Linked DNA regions of Homo sapiens. The protein of the gene in region 1 interacts with the protein of each later gene in a pairwise test. Each region holds a gene or a part of one and is shown on either strand. Other genes may lie near its edges.

What was found. The genes of interacting proteins can lie anywhere in the genome.
Region 2: the proteins of PBLD (region 1) and GRAP2 interact in binary tests that used the Homo sapiens proteins (3 or more experiments, as listed by UniProt).

Annotation. Positions count from the first base shown.
Region 1 is NC_000010.11:68,322,929-68,326,428, forward strand, and holds part of PBLD (phenazine biosynthesis-like domain-containing protein), read right to left. Parts: intron 1-3,500.
Region 2 is NC_000022.11:39,963,461-39,967,190, reverse strand, and holds part of GRAP2 (GRB2-related adapter protein 2), read right to left. Parts: intron 3,272-3,730; exon of another isoform or gene 2,817-3,271; coding exon of another isoform or gene 2,622-2,816; exon of another isoform or gene 2,286-2,621; intron 1,202-2,285; coding exon 1,033-1,201; intron 1-1,032. Other genes in the region: TMA7B (translation machinery-associated protein 7B), read right to left, coding at 2,622-2,816. UniProt on the Homo sapiens protein: Interacts with SLP-76 to regulate NF-AT activation. Binds to tyrosine-phosphorylated shc.

The DNA of each region.
Region 1 (3,500 bases):
TGAGATCTCACTATGTTGCTCAGTCTGGTCTCAAACTCCTGGTCTCAAGCAATCCTCCTTCTTTGGCCTCCCAAAGTGCTGGGATTACAGGTGTGAGCCACTGTGCCAGCCAAATATAAGATGTTAACAGAGGAAACTGAGTGAGCCATATATAGGAATTCTATGTAATATCTTTGCAACTTTTCTATAAATCTACAACTATTCAAAAATCTAAAATTTTATTTTTTTTAATGATCTGAGGCCTGCCAATAGCCATGGGAGTGAGCTTTTAAGCAGATCCTACCCTAGTTGACCCTTGAGATAACTGAAGCTCCAGCTGACATTTTAATTATACCCTTATAAGAGACCCTAGGCTGGGCATGGTGGCTCACGCCTGTAATCCCAGCACTTTGGGAGGCCAAAGTGGGTGGATCACATGAAGTCAGGGGTTCAAGACCAGGTGGGCCAACATTGGGAAAACCCGTCTCTACTAAAAATACAAAAATTAGCCAGGCTTCGTGGAGCATACCTGTAATCCCAGCTACTCAGGAGGCTGAGGCTGGAGAACAGCTTGAACCCATGAGGCAGAGGTTGCAGTGAGCTGAGCACACCACTGCACTCCAGCCTGAGGGACAGAGTGAGATTCCATCTCAAAAAAGAAGAAAAAGAGATCCTGGGCTAGAAGCATCCAGCTAAGCTGCCCCAAGATTTCTGATCCACAGAAATTATGAAATAATAAAAGTTTGTTGTTTTAAGCTGTTAAGTTTTGGAGCAATTTGTTACACAGCAATAATAACTAATAGAGTATACTTCCTTTTATGTAGAATATTCAGAAGTATCCCCCACAAAAACACTGGGATAATTTGCATTCCATTTGTTTGATAGTTATATTCTTCACTGTAAATAATAAATTCTCATTCTAGTTTTTACAACAGATTCCACAGCAAATTTACTTAGCCTGAGGCCATCCCAAAAAACTTATTTTGAAGTATAAAAGCAAAATATATGTCAATGAATGCCAAATCTACATTCCTATCCAGATTAATTTCCTACTAGACACATTCACTCGGACAGTACATGGCATCTCAAAATCAACACACCCGATATTCCTGTATTTCCTATGTCAGTTAAAATTCTCAGCATCCAACCCTAAGCCAAAAATAATTCATCCTTGACTTCTTTTCACTCACCCATGCACAGCCTTTCTACTCAAGCACTAAACCCTGCTGATAAATAGCTCCTAATTTTCTTTTTTTTTTTTGAGATAGAGCTGGGACCACAGGTGTGCGCCACCATGCCTCGCTCTGTTGCCAGGCTGGAGTGCAGTGGCACGATCTGGGCTCACTGCAACCTCTGCCTCCTGGGTTCAAGCGATTCTCCTGCCTCAGCCTCTCAAGTAGCTGGGACTACAGGTGCGCGCCACCATGCCCAGCTAATTTTTGTATTTTTTGTAGAGATGAGGTTTCACCATGTTGGCCAGGATGGTCTCGATCTCTTGACCTCATGATCTGCCCACCTTGGCCTCCCAAAGTGCTGAGATTACAGGTGTGAGCCACTGTGCCCAGCCAAATATTTCTTAAAGAGAGCCTCCTGTATCTATCCCTAATACCATTGCTCTAGTTTAAGTATTCATCATCTCTACTGGTCCTTCTCCTAGTCTTCTCTCTTCTTACCCTCCCAATATCTACCCTCCACACTTTATTTATTTATTTATTTATTTATTTATTTAGAGACAGGGTGTCACTCGCCCAGACTGGAGTGCAGTGGCACAATCTCAGCTCACCACAACCTCTGCCTCACAGGCTCAAACGATTCTCCTGCCTCAGCCTCCCAAGTAGCTGAGATTACAGGCATGTGCCACTATTGCCCGGCTAATTTTTGTATTTTTAGTACAGACAGGGTCTCACCATGTTGGCCAGGCTGGTCTTGAACTCCTGACCTCAAATGATCCACATGCCTTGGCCTCCCAAAGTGCTGGGATTACAGGCGTGAGCCATCATGCCCAGCCAACTCTCCACACTTTAATCAGAACTATCTAATTAAAACACTACATCTGGGCTAGGTGCAGTTGCTCACACCTGTAATCCCAGAACTTTGGGAGGCCGAGACAGGCAGATCACGAGGTCAGGAGTTCAAGACCAGCCTGGCCAACATGGTGAAACCCTGTTTCTACTGAAAATACAAAAAGTAGCCAGGTGCGGTGGCAGGCACCTGTAATCCCAGCGACTCGGGAGGCTGAGGCAGGAGAATTGCTTGAACCCGGGAGGCGGAAGTTGCAGTGAGCTGAGACTGTGCCACTGCACTCCAGACTGGGTGACAAAACAAGACTCCGTCTCAGGGAAAACAACAAAACAAAACAAAAACCCACTACATTGGCCGGGAATGGCGGCTCATGCCTGTAATCCCAGCACTTTGTGTGGCCAAGAGAGGTGGATCACTTGAGGTGAGGAGTTTGAGACCAGCCTGGCCAACATGGTGAAACCCCGTGTCTACCTAAAAATACAAAAATTAGCCAGGCGTGGTGGTGTATGCCTGTAGTCCCAGCTACTCAGGAGGCTAAGGCAGGAGAATCACCTGAACCTGGGAGGCAAAGATTGCAATGAGCTGAGATCACGCCACTGCCCTCAAGCCTGGGAAACACAGTGAGACTGCATCTCAAAAACAATACAAAAAAACCCAAAAAGCACTACATTGATCATCAATCTTAAAAGCCAAGCTCCATAGGGTAGCACACAAACTTCTCCAAGATCTGGTTCCTACCTACTTCCTTATTTTACAATGTTTCACCTGCTTAGAGTTTCCACTTCTGCCGTTATTTTGTACATCCATGCCTTGGATCTTACTGCGTCCTCAACTGTAAATGCTTTTCCTATTTTTCATTGCCCCACTAAATTTTACTTATCCTCCAACACTTAACTCATGAGTTGTCTCCTTCAGAAAGCTTTCTCTGAAGCCCTAGACTGTGTGAATGGCCAGATTCTGTGCTCCCCAAACACTCTGTGCTTACCCTATTTTGTCACTTGCTACAGTTTAATGTAATTTATCTATGTAATGGAATGTATCTGTATGCTCTTGAAAGTCAGGGACAGGTTCACTTTATGTACGTGCATTTTTTTTTTAGCTCATCCAACATTATAGAATGTACTTGATTTTTCTGTTTTGTTTTGTTTTTGTTTTTTGAGATGGAGTCTTACTCTGTTGCCGAGGTTGGAGCACAGTGGCGCAATTTCGGCTCATTGCAACCTCCGCCTCCTGAGTAGCTGGGATTACAGGCATGCAGTATCATGCCCGGTTAATTATTTTTGTATTTTTAGTAGAGACGTGGTCTCACCATGTTGCCCAGGCTGATCTTGAACTCCTGATCTCAAGTGATCCGCCAGCTTCGGCCTACTAGAGTGCTGGGATTACAGGCATGAGCCACTGTGCCAAGCTGTACTTGTATTTTTTATGGATGGATGGAAACATATACTGACCTACTAGGAATTCAGTAATGCTCTCAAATCAATTTCCATTTATTAATA
Region 2 (3,730 bases), on another chromosome or scaffold:
GACTCGAAAAAGGAGGATTTTCTTGACTTCCCCAAAGCACACATTGCTTTCACAGTCTCAATATCTTTTCAAATAACCTGTCCCTAGGATTTCAGCTATTCTAGTGAATGCTTCTTCCTATGATACCTGTCTCTTATAACCATGTTATTTCCTTTGAAAAATAGTTCATAAATTGGTGTGTGTGTGTGTGTGTGAGTGTGTGCATGTGTGAATTTACTTATGGGAGGCAAGTTAACATGTTCTTAGTGTTTAATATGGACCAGACTCTGGTAGTGCTTAGCTGTATTAAGTCATTTAATCCTCACAACAGCCCAGTGAGGGAGGTTTTATTGCTCTCTCCATTCTACAGATGAGAAAACTGATACTCAGATGGTTTCTTAACTTGGCTAGGTAATACAGGTAGCTAAGCGATTAAAGCAGGATTTCATACCAGGTCTGTCTGACGCATTTCCTTTTAAAGCAATAGTCTGTATTGCAAACAGTTGCAACAGCAATAATTCCAAGTGCAGTTTTCTCCTCCCATGTCCTCCCTACCCCCAATCCCATCATAAAACTCCACATGCTGATTTAACTCCTGAACTCTAGGCTGTTCCCTAATGTCCCTGTCTGTAGCACCCCCAACTCCTTCATCCTTGGGCAACTCTTGAGCTAGGTTGAAAACTTTGGTGTAGCAATGTCTATGAATAACAAAAAAACAGCACCTGTGGTAAGAGCTGATGCTTGCTGAGCGCAGTGTGATGAGGAATGACATGAGGCGTGGGATACATTATCTTCTCCAACCTTCACAGCCATTCTGGGAGGTAGATATTACCATTGTCCCTACTTTATGGATGAGGAAACTGAGGCGCAGAGAACTTTCCAAAGTCACACGACTAGGAAGTGTTAAGTTGAGATCTGACCTCAGAGCTCTGAGCTCTGTCTTTCAGTATACTCAGAGGATCTACCCATCCTATGCATTTTTCCTGGTGGTTCATGTGAGAACTCAGGCTGCCTAAAATCTCTAGATTGGGGTCGACTGGATCTGGAGCATACCTGGTCTTCTCGGGTTCTGTCTCTAAGGAAGATCTGCTTCTGTCTGGAGATGGAATTTGTCCTGTAGTAGTCTACCAGCTTATTTAGGGATGGAAACTTCTCAGTCCACAGAAAGTAATTACCCTTGTTGTCTCGCATGACCTTGAAGTGTTGAACGTCATCCTCATGCCTGGAGATCAAGGCAAAACAAAATTGTATGTTACACGGTGATAATGTCACCACCTCCAGGCTGCTCACATCTGGGATGGTGGAGTTCTCTTTGAGCAGGAGATGTAGATATGGATGACTCACTCATCACTGGGCAGGTGGGCCAGCCCAGTCAGGCTTCGGCAGGAACTTTGTAGGATGGACCACTTAGGATACAGGCTATGCTAGACGGGATTTACATCAGCAGAAGGTAATCAGATGAGCTAAAATTTGTTTTGGACACTGGAACTAACCTTTTACAAGAAAAGCATGTTCCAAGTGACTTAACGACAAAGAGATCAAAGACCTTTTCACAATGTTTATTCGCAAGATGTCAACAGGGGTATTTCAAGCTCCTATTATCTTTCTGTTACCAGAAATTCTTTGAACCATCTCCTTTAAGCCCATAAGCTAGCACTGGCAGGTAAGAAGCTACTCTCTTTCCTAAGAAATATGTCACATTTTTTCTCTATGTAATAAGGATCTCTTGATCTTGGTTTATGTTTTGCATAAATAAGGTTACAAAGTGTTTTCAGCTTTTGGTGAAATAGCTTTGTATGAAATACAGAGTTTTTGTTTGTTTGTTTGTTTTGTTTTTTTGAGATGGAGTCTCACTCTGTCGCCCAGGCTGGAGTGCAGTGGTGTGATCTCTGCTCACTGCAACCTCCGCCTCCCAGGTTCAAGCGATTCTCCTGTCTCAGCCTCCTGAGGAGCTGGGATTACAGGCACCCACCACCAAGTCTTTAGTAAAGACGGGGTTTCGCCATGTTGGTCAGGCTGGTCTTGAAGTCCAGACCTCCGGTGATCCACCTGCCTTGGCCTCCCAAAGTGCTGGGATTACAGGTGTGAGGCACTGCGCCCTGTGAAATGATAGAGTTTTAATTGGCAAGGATGTTGGAGATTGTTTAGCCTTACTTCTCCATTTTACAGATGAGGACACTGAGGCTCACAGAGGTGCAGGGGCTTGGTCAAGGTCACTGCTGAGTAAGGGCTGAGGCCAGAACCCTGAGTCTCTGACTCCAGTCTAGTGAGCTTGGCCTGTCACGCCACCTAAACATGATAACTTCTTTTTTCTTTCAAATGAGTTGGTTTAATTTCAGGTGATACAAAGTTTAGGGTAGAACAACGACCAAAGAGCAGATTCTGGCAAGATTCTGAGCTGGTTTTACTTTAAATTCACAGTTATGGTAGGAATGACTTAGTGAAAACAACTAAAGAGATGATGAGCCACTGGAAGATTTTTTTTTTTTTTTTTTTACAAAAGTTTATTCTTAAATGTACAACAGCTCCAAGACGACACTTAATTCCAACTATAGGTGGCAAAAGATATTATAGGAGGGAATAGAGAGGTTTAAATACGGATGAAATAAAGGGTCACCGTCTCCTTAGGCACAAGGAACAGCTTATTTTTTGCCAGATTTCTTAATTCCACCTGTGGCCAGAGGCCCCTTCCCCACGACCTTCGCTTTTAGCACCTCGAGTTTCTTCTGCTCCTCTTTTTGTTTCTGCTTGAAAGCCTTCTCTTCCTCGTCCATCTCCTTGGCCTGCTTCTTGGGCTGTTTCAGTGCCTTCTTCTTGCCACCTTCGTGGCTGGACATGGCGCCTGCCGCCCCTTCCCCAGACCCTGCCACTGGACGATAACTTCTTTTAGATCAGCACCTTTTGTTGCCAGTCTGGACTCACAAGTGATGGGACACATTCGAACCAGGGCTAGAGAAAATGGATTTTATCCATCTAGGAAGGGTGGGCTGAGCCTTTACCATTAGATCCAGTTTTACTTCATTGCCAAGTCATTCTCTTTTGGATGTAAAGTTTATTTTTCAAACAGACATACATTTATATCTAAAAATAAACTGGCACTAGTGATGCCAATTGCCTGATGTAAAAGAAAGGTCAAGAATTTTAAAGGGTCTCGGAGAGTAAAGATACCTCTGAGAGTAAGTGGAGGTTTCTTTTTGAGTCAGAGTCTCGCTCTGTCGCCCAGGCTGGAGTGCAGTGGCGTGATCTCTGCTCACTGCAAGCACCACCTCCCAGGTTCATGCCATTCTCCTGCCTCAGCCTCCCAAGTAGCTGGGACTACAGGCGCCCGCCACCACGCCCGGCTAAGTTTTGTATTTTTAGTAGAGACGGGGTTTCATCGTGTTAGACAGGATGGTCTCGATCTCCTGACCTCATGATCCGCCCACCTCAGCCTCCCAAAGTGCTGGGATTACAGGCGTGAGCCACTGCGCCTGACCATGGAGGTTTCTTAGGGATGGATTTAGGGACCTGTGTTAAGAAGGAGATGGAAATTCTGACCCTCAATCTCATCTTATGTGCTGGGATTTGCTCATAGCTGGGTGAAGCCACAGGTTGTACAAGTGGCCTCTTGCTTGACTGATTTCGGGTGGTAATCAACATATTGCAATCACTTTGTGGTCTTCCCCTTGGTTTTGGCCACCAACAGATACTTTCTTCATTCTAAGACAACATGGATCAACTCAAAGTCATTATCCTTCACATCCAGGTGAGG